3 linked regions of the Homo sapiens genome follow. The protein of the gene in region 2 interacts with the protein of the main gene of each other region in a biochemical or structural test. Each region holds a gene or a part of one and is shown on either strand. Other genes may lie near its edges.

Region 1 (3,747 bases), on a different chromosome or scaffold from region 2:
AGTGTCATTAATTAAGACTGAGAATACGAAGATGATTATCACAGAGAGAGCGTCATCTGTCGCGAGAGCAGAAGCAGATGGAGCCTAGGTAATTGTAAGAGATTGGTGATACGAAATGGCTGTTTGGCTAGTAGGATAGAAATTTGACTTGGGAATATTAAAAAAATAAGTGATATCCAGCTTGCATTAGATATCAAATGAAATGTATTGTGGCATCAGTTCTAACGGATTCATAATTTTTAAGGAGCAGTCCACAGAAGCCTCTTTCATGTATTCATCCACATGAAATACACTACTAGGCTGTAAACTGTGGGGAGGGGTATGGAAGGCAGACAGATCAAGGGTAGGACATTTTTGGACAAAAAAGTTGCCAGTGAGGAATTTGAATCTAATGATAGTAAACCTGTTGATGTGGTCAATCGTAAATTCTACTTTTATAAAGAAAGAAATGAAGCTGGACTGATTATTGAAAATGTCAAATAGGATTACAAAGAGTTGAAACAGTTTTATAAGCTCCATATCAAAACTAGGCAGTTTTTATCTTTCTAGGTCATTTACATGATGGCCATGGTAGAACTGAGATGTCCCCTGACCCTCTGTATGTGGCTATGCTCTCTGCAGCCTAAGGCCAAAACAGTTAATAGATAAGTGCCTGGGTTTGGTTACTAAAGAAAACGTGTAGATTCCTGTCATCTTTCAAGTGTATACATACCAACCAGTATTCTTTATTTTTTTTTTTTTTTTTTTTTGAGACAGAGTCTTGCTGTGTCATTCAGCCTGGAATGCAGTGGCATGTTCACAACTCACTGTAGCCTCAAACTCCAGGGCTCAAGTGATCCTCCTTCCTCAGCCTCCTCACAGCTGGGACTACAGGCATGTGCCACCATGCCTGGCTAATTTTTTAATTTTTTTGTAGAGACAAAGTCTCACTATGTTGCCCAGGCTGGTTTTGAATTCTTGGGCTCAAGCAATTCTCCTACCTCAGCCTCCTAAAGTGCTGGGACTACAGGTATGAGCCACCGTACCCAGCCTCAACCAATATTCTTCTACTTTACCTTAAAGAGACTTAGGAACTACCACCTTTAATTGTATATATTTTAAATATTGTTTCAGTTACATGCAAAAAATAGAGAGGGGCAGGATTTTGAAGAGATCAATGTTCATGAGTTTTCTCCTGCTTCCTTTGGTGCTGATCATTTCCCCTCCTAAATTTCAACAATAAGATCAGAATTGTGGAATTGTGAACTTGGAAGAAATTATAAAATTTATTGGACTCTTCTACTTCATCTCCATTTAGTAAATAAAACAAATGAAAATCAGAGAAGACAAGGCTGACGTTAGCCTGTAAATCAAAAGCAGAACTAAACCCAGAAAATGCAGGTTTCCTGACAAGTAATTTTAATACTTTCTACTATAGTGTAGAGATTAGAAAACTCATTTTAATGTACTTTGTTAATTTACTGTATCATTTTGCATATTCTATCCCTACCCTACCCTCCTTTAAGATTCAGCAAAATTTTTAATGTGGAAGAATAAAAAGTGGTTTCAATACTCTCTCCAGAGTATAGTATCAGAATTCTAAAAAGAGCTGACGCAAAGCACTTTTATTACCAATTTTAATGTAAAGGCACTGACAGTATGCAAATAAGGCACAAAGCCAAGCTTTAGAAATGAACTAGAGAGATAATGAATTCACATGGTGCCATTTTTAAGATTAGACTTTAGTCCTATATTCCTGTTCTTTGTTGGTGGGCAAGCCACAAGCAACTCTGACCTCAGTTTTGCTACCATAGTAGATGCACACCTGGATTAACAAAGGACAGAATGCGCTACTTAGCACGTCTCATTTTTTGGGCAGTGTCTGTTCACCCCACCCCCATCCTGTTCAACTTCAATGTCAGAAGGAAATGAAGCCACAATGTGAACAAAAAGAGCTATAACATTTTTTGTCTCCTGCTTCCCCCCTCCCTCTTCATTGTCCTCCCCACATAGAGCTACTCCACCCCACTCTGGCTGTAGTGTGACATTCCTGCCTGCCTGAGGAAGAAATGGTGAGCAGGGGCTGCAATTGCAGACAAGTGTCACCCAGAAGCCACAAGTTTCTGTGAGCACCAGGTCTACAAACTACCCAAGGCATAGCAATGGCATTATCACTGGAAGAATTCGTCCACTCCCTTGACCTCAGGACCCTACCCAGGGTTCTAGAAATCCAGGCAGGCATCTATCTTGAAGGTAAGCACTCTCCAATACCTTTACTGGCTAGAACATTCTTGTAAAGTATACATTTTTGAAAATTGGAGGGGGGGAATTTTAACAGCAAATATGTGAGTTCTGGTAAAGGAAAGGCGATCACAAAAGAAAGTAATGAACTGACCAACGAATCGTCAAAAGCCAATGGTGTTGGAGAGGGGAGAAACTAGACAGGACTCTGGGACAGACAGAAATAAGGAATTGAGTGAAGCTTCTTGAGCTTTCTGTAGGCCTTGAATGGTGAACTATTTCTGCCTTTGCTTTGAAATTGGTTGTAATCAAGAATAATAAATTTAGTTATCAATATTTATGTTTCCACAATATAAAAAATAAAATTTAGCTTGCTAAAACAAAAGCAACTATCAAAGGCACAGTGTTTAGAAAGAAGTATTTCCAAATATTTCCCAAACTTTTAGCTCCTAAATGTTGCTTATACCAATGTTTTTCTCACTCTGTAGTGGCCTAACTCCAAATTCCTTAAATAATGAAAATTTTAATTTGAAGGTATAGAAATTATTGCTACAAGATAATTTTTAAAAATTGATGTTGAAACTCAGAGTTCAATTAAACTTATTGAATAATAAGATAGTGAGTTTTGGTGTAACTCACTATGTTAATTCAGGTGAAAGAACATTATAACCTCCAATATACAACCTAGAATCTTTACATGGTTAGTTTGAATACATAGAATACAATTAATAATTCTGTAGGTGTATTTCTGGCCTCAAGAGTGGTAGAATTGAAGCAGTTGTAGAAACAGATCAAGACAAAACTACCAGGAAAATAACTTAACTGTTGGTAGGCAGGTCTTTCTTGTTCGTAGACAAAATAATGTATTACATATTATGTTGCAAAGTAAAAGAAAGATTAACACGTCAGCTCCAGTTTTTATATATATTATATATATATATATATATATAAAATATACACACACATACTTGCAGGTGATGAATTGATATGGGCTGTTATCAGCTTAGTGTACAGTTTTATTTAACTAATTTGTAAGTTGATTTTTGGAATCAGACTATGTTTTGCCGTGTATAATCATATTATCAATGTCTCTATTTCTAAGCCAGCCCCAAATCATTTTTTGTCTCATGGTTTGTGTTTTTTAGGCTTTACGTAAAAAGTCTTTCTTTATGTCTACTTTAAAAAGATATTTTCCTATGTTGTTTTTATCAACTTTACGGTTTCATATTTTGCATTTAGTTTTTAGTCTATTTGGAGGACAATGTTATGAATTGTACAGGGATCCAATTTTAGTTTTCTCTATACAGTTCACCTGATTTCCAGGTACCATTTGCTAAGCTGACAATCTTTCCGCCATTGATTTTTGTTGCCTCCTTCAAATCATATTATATGTTCACCTCTGTATCAGTCTGTCTCTAAAATATCTCTTCTATTCCATTAGTTTATTTTTTTTCTTAGCTGCCCCCAAACACACTATTTTTGTAACTATGGCCTTGCAATACATGTTAATATAGAAATGATGTATAG
Region 2 (3,747 bases):
ATCCTAGCTAGAGCCACCTCTTCTCTCTCTTAATGTCACTCCACTTATTTCCTTTGTAATGCTGACCTCAATCTGTAATTATTATTTTTGTTTCTTTCTCAGTTTATCTCACGGCTCTCCCTCCTTAGAGTGTTGCCTTCGGGAGGACGGGGTGGGACCGCGCCTGCCTCAAGCGTGCATATCCCCAGCACCGGGCCTGAAACACAATAATTCAGCACGTGGTTGGGACATGAAGAGATGGGTACAGGTGTGGGTGCTTGGGGACCAGTTGGCGTGCTTGGGCGTCCACATAATGTCTCTGGAAAGTCAGATGGGGGTTTGGGACTTCTCGATCTGTGCCCAGCAGGCTGCGGCTTCTCTCCAGGTTGACTCTGGCACAGAGCAGGCTCTGCCCCCTTGGCGAGCTCAGTCTGCGGCACTGATGCCCTCCACTTGGCGTCTCTCGCGCCGTCTTTGGGCCCAACGCACCAGGTTCAGGAAGGCCCTGACGTGCCTCCGACCCTCTGTGAACCCGCAGGTTTCGGGAGGCCCAGGGGCGATGCCAGACCCCGCGGCGCACCTGCCCTTCTTCTACGGCAGCATCTCGCGTGCCGAGGCCGAGGAGCACCTGAAGCTGGCGGGCATGGCGGACGGGCTCTTCCTGCTGCGCCAGTGCCTGCGCTCGCTGGGCGGCTATGTGCTGTCGCTCGTGCACGATGTGCGCTTCCACCACTTTCCCATCGAGCGCCAGCTCAACGGCACCTACGCCATTGCCGGCGGCAAAGCGCACTGTGGACCGGCAGAGCTCTGCGAGTTCTACTCGCGCGACCCCGACGGGCTGCCCTGCAACCTGCGCAAGCCGTGCAACCGGCCGTCGGGCCTCGAGCCGCAGCCGGGGGTCTTCGACTGCCTGCGAGACGCCATGGTGCGTGACTACGTGCGCCAGACGTGGAAGCTGGAGGTGAGAGCGCAGCCTGGGGCGCGGGGTCTGGAGGGGCGTGGCCGAAGAGGGGCAGTCGAGGGTTTTGGGGGGATAGGAGGGAGGAAAAGGTCGTCTTCCCCATTCAGTCCCCTTTGGAAGCTGGAGAGGTGGGGCACTGGTTGGGGAAGAACCTGAAAGGAGGCCTCAGAGGCAGGGGCTCCGTGGTGGCGGTCGCCTTCCGCAGGCTGAGCGATGCTATGGTGCTCTACTATGCCAGATGGGAAGGTAGAGGGACGCACTGGGCCGGGCGAAGGCGAGGCTTGGAATGGGGGCGGGGCTGAGAGGAGGGTGCGCGGGGCTAGGGTGAGCCCTTAGGGTAGGGTGGCTGTTGGGGAAGATGGGCAGTAGTCGTCCACAGCCTGAGTGACACCACCATGCACAACTACCTGAATTAGGTCTTCAAGCTGGAGATGCGCTTGGGGCCGCGCTGGAAGGTGGGGGTGGTTCCTCCCTAGCTGGATTGGGGAGGGGACCACGGAGATGGCGCGGAGGTAGTCCTCGAAAACCTGCCTAACACGCGCTAGGGACGCCTGGGTGGGGTGGGGAGTCCTCTGGGACAGGGCTCCCGGAAGGGGGTTCCTGTGGCGAGCACTTGGCCACACCTACAGACCTCCTCGCCTCTCCTTTTCTAGGGCGAGGCCCTGGAGCAGGCCATCATCAGCCAGGCCCCGCAGGTGGAGAAGCTCATTGCTACGACGGCCCACGAGCGGATGCCCTGGTACCACAGCAGCCTGACGCGTGAGGAGGCCGAGCGCAAACTTTACTCTGGGGCGCAGACCGACGGCAAGTTCCTGTATGTGGGGCCCGGGATTTGGGTGCGGTGAGGATTGGGGCTCGTTGGCAGGGATCCTGGGGACTGGGGCAGACGTGAGTGTGCAGTTGGGCCGTAAGGGTGTCCCTGTGCTCACATGTGCAAGTGGGTTGTGTGTTTCTGATGTGCAAAGGGACTTGCACATGGGGAAGTAGAGGTAGTGACTAGGAAAGCCTCCAGACTCGGTCCCTTGGCCTGGCTTGGAATCCCGCTTCCGCCACCTGCTGGCTGTGGCCCTTGGGCAAGTAGCGGACTGTGGTTGCCTGCCTCAGTTTCCCCTCCTTCAATCAACAAATATTTACTGAATACCTACTGTGTACCAGGCACTGAGCACACGGCAGTGAGCCAAAAAGACACAGTGCCTGTCCTCATGGGGCAGGTAGACAAGAAAAGGAATCAATAAAATAGAGACCCTGTCAGATGGTGGTAAGCGCCGTGTGTGCAGGTGGGGAGGCGGTTGCAATTTTAGATTAGGTGGTCAGAAGAGGCCTTCCTGAGAAGGTGACTTCTGAGGAAGGGAAAGAAGCTGAGGAGTGAGCTGTGCAGCTTTCAGGGGGAAGGGTGTTCCTGGAAAATGCAATGGCAAGTGCAAAGATCAGGAGGCAGGAGTCTATTTGGCGTGTTCCAGAAACATTGTGGAGGCCATGTGCCTGGAGCTGAGTAAGTGAGGGGGAGAATGGGAGGAGGTGAGGGCAGGGCGGGGACTTTAGCTTTTCCCCCAAGTGAGGTGGGATCCCCGGGAGAGTGTTGAAGCAGCCCCCTCTAACTGTCCTGTGGTTGACAGCAGTACCTCCCCTCAGGATCCTCTATGAGGATTACATGAATTAATACGTGTGAATCGAGAGTATGGTAACTGACATAGGAAAAATGCGGTAAATGTTAGCTTTTATATGTGGGTGAACGTGCGTGTCTGAGCCACAGCTGAGGCCATGTAGCTATTTGTGAGTTTGTTAATGTGAAAAAAATCTCTGAAAATCTCTTTTTAAAACTCTGCTGAGTGTTTGACAGCCCTGCTGGGGCTGTTGCTCTCTGGTTTGGACACGGGATCTTTTCTGTAACAGATGGTATCCAGGTGCAGCTGAGGTCACTCAGGCCTCAAGACACAGATAAATTGGTGCTGCCTCTTTCCCATGACCTCAGGAAGCCCAGTGTTTTCCCCCAAGAAATCTGTGGGGACAATTCTTGGGCCTTCCTTCTCGTGAGTGCTTCTTGGCCTGAGCCCCTGCCCAGCAGATCCCTTGGGTCATCTGCCTCCCCCAGGGCTGTTTCCTCTCCTGAGGTCAACCCACTTGGAGGAAATGACCACATCCCTTGATTTTCCTCACCCATGTGAAGTTTCTGTAGATTGCCTGCAGGCCTCTTGCAAGATGCAGCTCCCTCTCCAAGATTCTGTTGTGGGCTGATAAAATAACTCTTTTCACCCTACCATACAGATTCAGATTTAGGCTGTAAATTGGAGTGGAGTTTCCAAGGCTTCTGAGGGAGCTCTTAGATACATGTTGCACGTAATACTCAGTTGCCGGCACAACTTCTGAACAGGACAGGGCTGTTTTCTCTAAGAGGAAACCTTTGCATTTGTATCAGTTAGCTTTTGCTACATAACAAGCAGCCCTAAGATTTATTGGCTCAAAATGACAGTTTATTGCTCTTCATGATTCTGTGAGCTAACTAAGCAGTTCTGGTTTGGGTCATCTAGGCTGGGCCTGAATAGGCTGGGATGGCCACACTCACATGACTGGCCATTGGCTCAGTGTCACCTGGGTGATGGGGATGAGCTGGCCCAGTGCAGCCATCATCCAGCAAGCTAGCTGAAGCTTGTTTGTGTGGTGGTGGTGCAGGGTTCCCAAGATCAGTCAGAGAGGACAGGGCAAGTTCAAGCCTTTGTTTGTGTAATGTCACTGATGTCCTAATGGACAAAGCAAGTCATACGACCAAAACCAAAGTCACTGTAGGGAAGGGATTCCTTAAGGGAGAG
Region 3 (3,747 bases), on a different chromosome or scaffold from region 2:
CCCTTGTCACACTCGTGGTTCTAGTTCACCAAGGGCTGCAGAGATGCAGATGTTCGGAAGTCACGTTTTTCCATGACTGTGGGGATAGCGGTTCCAGGGCTCAGCCTCACCCACAGGCTGGCCTCCCATGCTGGCGTGGCCCGTTAATCCTCCCTAGAGCCTTTGAGGCTTTGCTGAGCAGGACCGGCTAGCCACACAGGGAGGCGTGCAGGGACGCCATGGGCGTCCTTTGGGGTCACACTGCATTGTTCATCCAGTTCACGTCCACTCCCCTGTGGCTCTGAGTGGGCTGTGATTTGGCCATGACCGGACCTCCCCTCCCCACGAGCATCCAGAGCACTTGTTGACGGTGTGATGACACTGAGCTTGGGAACCCTGGACTCCCTTGCCAGCATCCATGGCAGCCCTGACCCCTGACTCCGGTGTCGGGCGATTCCTGCTGTCCCAGGGCAGTCGGCACGAGCCCTACCCGGATCTCTGTTGTCCTGAGCTTTTTAGGGTCACAGGGGCCATAGCAGGCAGCTTGCCGTCCTCACACAGAGGGTGGAGTGGGGAGGGGAGCAGAGGGTGGCCGCCCCGTGTCTGACAGTGAAATGGTCCTGCCTTCCTCTCCCTGCCCCTCCAGGCGATCACCCCCCGATGGGCAGAGTTTCAGGAGCTTCTCCTTTGAAAAGCCCCGGCAACCCTCACAGGCTGACACTGGCGGGGACGACTCGGACGAGGACTATGAGAAGGCAAGGCTGAGCGGCAAGCCTGGGTCCCAGTGGCCAGTAGGTGGACAGGTGGTGGGAAAGCCATAGGCCAGGGCGGCCCCTCACAGACCGTCCTGAGCAAGGACCCCCCGAGAACCCGGGAGCCTAGGGGGACACAGCACCATGTAAAGCCCCGGATCCCGGCACCGGGTGGCCACCGTCCGGGGAGTGGTGGTGCGGGTGGATCACTCCGACGTTGGCACTGACACCGTCAGCCTCTTGCAGGTGCCACTGCCCAACTCGGTCTTCGTCAACACCACGGAGTCCTGCGAAGTGGAAAGGTCAGCACAAAGCCCTGTGTGTGCTGGGTCCTCCGCCATGCCCGGCTTCCTGCTTCTGTGTCCCTCTCACTAGCTTCCGTGTTGGGGAGTTGCTGGCACAAGTTCATGGCCCTGCGTGCAGCAGAAACCAGAGGAGTGGACCTCCCTGCTCTGTCCCATGCCCAGCTGGCACCCTGGCTGGCCAGGGCTCTGCTGGGCTGCTTCTGTCAGCCTCACGGCAGCCCGACGTGCTCAGCTCCTGAGACCTACAACAGCGAGAGGACAGAAAGCCAGGCTTGGGAGCGGGGCGGGAAGGTCCGTGTGAAAGCTGCCCGAGGAGGACTCACCCGCTAATATGACTGTCTTATTTTAGGTTGTTCAAGGCTACAAGCCCCCGGGGAGAGCCCCAGGATGGACTCTACTGCATCCGGAACTCCTCTACCAAGTCGGGGAAGGTAGGCGCCAGGGGAAGATGCCCCAGGGCCCCTCTGGCTCTCCACACACCCAGGCTGTGGGTGGGCCCAGGACTCCACAGTTCCTAAACCACTCCCCTTGTGGACTCTTACTTGGTGTCTCAGCTGAATTCTCTTCCCAGCAGCACCCCCCAATCTATTCCCTAATAGATCTCCATCTGCAAATTGGGGGCCATGATGGCCACCTCCCAGTGGGGGCCAGGACTCGGGTGGGGTAGGGCTCATGCTCTGGGGTGGCGGAGGCCACATGGGGCAGGGGAACGCCAGGTCTGCCCGTGTCCCTCCGAGCGTGAAGTTGTGACCTCACTGAGCCATGCTCTCCCGGGTGTGTCGGAGTGGTTATTGGTGGTTATGAGCTGTTGCTCATCAGAGGCTCTCTGAGGGCTGCCAGTGTCGCCCCCGCTGTCCTTGTGCAGGTGGTCTGGAGTCCCTCCCCGCCCCCCGAGGGCCACAGGACCCAGCCTTGATGGTTCTGCCCCCCTATCCCCAGCCCATGGTCTCCCGAGGCTGGTCCCGCTGTTTCTCAGGGAGCCGTCAGCCTCCCGCTTCCGTCCTGTAGGTCCTGGTTGTGTGGGACGAAACCTCTAACAAAGTGAGGAACTATCGCATTTTTGAGAAGGTGAGAGGGCTCTGAGTGGGACGGGGACCCTGGCCGCATGGCCTGGCAAGGGGCAGGGCAGAATCTCCCTGATGAGGCATAGGCAGCGGGTAGACTGAGACTGGCACCTCCAGGATACCGCCCTCCCCTTCCCCTCCACCATCGCTCACCCCCCACCCCTCCTGCTCAGCCTCCCTCCTCTCGTGGCCTACCTTTGTCCTCCACTGACCCTAGTGGGGATGGGCGGTCAGCCATAGACCCTGGGTTGCTTGTCTTGTCTTTTTCTTTTTGCGGGGACAGGGGTCTCACTGTCTTTCTCAGGCTGGTTTCAAATTCTGGGGCTCAAGCAATCCTCCCACCTCGGCCTCCCACAGTGCTGGGATTACAGGCGTGGGCCACCGTGCCTGGCCTAGGTTCATTTCCTGACCTTGTCTGAAGTGCTCTGGGTGCAGGCTCCTGGACATGGAGGACGGAGGGGAAGTGAGGTGGGAACATGGAGAGCACAGGCCTGATGCGGAGGCCACCTTGGGGGCACCACCGACAGCCAGGGGCCAGCCTGGTGATGCCGCTGTTGATGCTGCTGCCTTGTTTTACAGACGGGGAGACTGAGGCCTAGAGCCGCAGAGTGGCCTGGCCCTGCTGACGCTCCCCCTTCTCTTCCCCCACAGGACTCTAAGTTCTACCTGGAGGGCGAGGTCCTGTTTGTGAGTGTGGGCAGCATGGTGGAGCACTACCACACCCACGTGCTGCCCAGCCACCAGAGCCTGCTGCTGCGGCACCCCTACGGCTACACTGGGCCTAGGTGATGGCAGTCCATGTGGCTGCCAGGCCAAGGCAGTCACAGGGGCCCTGACCCCAGGCCACACAGACGGACATGGGCCCACATGGGAGGGTGAGCAGGAGCAAGGCTGTGCTTGCCTAGGGCCTCTGTGATGGACATCTCGTAGGACCCAGCCAGTCTCATCCAGCAGGTTGGGTTCTAGGGCTGAACCAGGCGCCAGGCTCCAGAGGACGAAGGGACTCTGTTGCCCCACACTAACTTGCCCTGTCCCAATCCCAGAAACCCAGGACCAAGCTGTGCCTGGGCTCCAAGGACAGGAACACTGGTCCCCCCATCACACTCACCCCTAAGTGGGCTGGGAGCCAGGCAGGGCCAGGGCAGCTGGGTGGGGGCCGGGGCTGGCCCTGGGACCCCCAGGAACGCTAAGACACAGGCTCCAGTAGGGGCTGTTGCCTCCAATAAAGCAGCAGTGAGCTTTGCCTTGGTGGCTGGGGCTTGATTGGGAAGGAGGGGATTACCAGCTTACTGGGTGCCCATGCTGATGTCTAAGTGGTGACCGCAGCAGTACCCGGGAACCCCAACAGTTGGTTGTCTTGTCTTCCAGGGTGCAGGTCACTGAGTGACTTCCCCAGGGTGCACAGCGAGTAACAGATCAGGACCCAAACTTGGGCAGTCTGGGCTGGGAGCCCACACCCCACTCACCAGTTCTGCTGCCTCAGGTCAGGCCAGGGCAGTGCTGCTGCAGAGCTAGAAGGCCCTGCAGCTACAGCTGCTTCATTCCCTGCATTAGTGCCTGGTTACTGGGTACCTCCTGAGTGGCTGTCCCCGTTCCAGAACTTGCATACACTGAGCGGGCTACAGAGCTAGAAGGCCCTGCAGCTAC

What was found.
Region 1: of the proteins of ZAP70 (region 2) and THEMIS, one has a biochemical effect on the other in vitro, tested with the Homo sapiens proteins (one study listed by IntAct).
Region 3: the proteins of ZAP70 (region 2) and SH3BP2 form a complex in vitro, tested with the Homo sapiens proteins (one study listed by BioGRID).

Annotation. Positions count from the first base shown.
Region 1 is NC_000006.12:127,899,327-127,903,073, reverse strand, and holds the start of THEMIS (protein THEMIS), read left to right. Parts: upstream 1-2,015; 5' UTR 2,016-2,141; coding exon 2,142-2,232; intron 2,233-3,747.
Region 2 is NC_000002.12:97,723,499-97,727,245, forward strand, and holds part of ZAP70 (tyrosine-protein kinase ZAP-70), read left to right. Parts: intron 1-517; 5' UTR 518-538; coding exon 539-940; intron 941-1,593; coding exon 1,594-1,754; intron 1,755-3,747. UniProt on the Homo sapiens protein: Tyrosine kinase that plays an essential role in regulation of the adaptive immune response. Regulates motility, adhesion and cytokine expression of mature T-cells, as well as thymocyte development.
Region 3 is NC_000004.12:2,830,946-2,834,692, forward strand, and holds part of SH3BP2 (SH3 domain-binding protein 2), read left to right. Parts: intron 1-625; coding exon 626-734; intron 735-977; coding exon 978-1,033; intron 1,034-1,385; coding exon 1,386-1,467; intron 1,468-2,044; coding exon 2,045-2,104; intron 2,105-2,751; coding exon 2,752-2,889; 3' UTR 2,890-3,747. UniProt on the Homo sapiens protein: Binds differentially to the SH3 domains of certain proteins of signal transduction pathways. Binds to phosphatidylinositols; linking the hemopoietic tyrosine kinase fes to the cytoplasmic membrane in a phosphorylation dependent mechanism.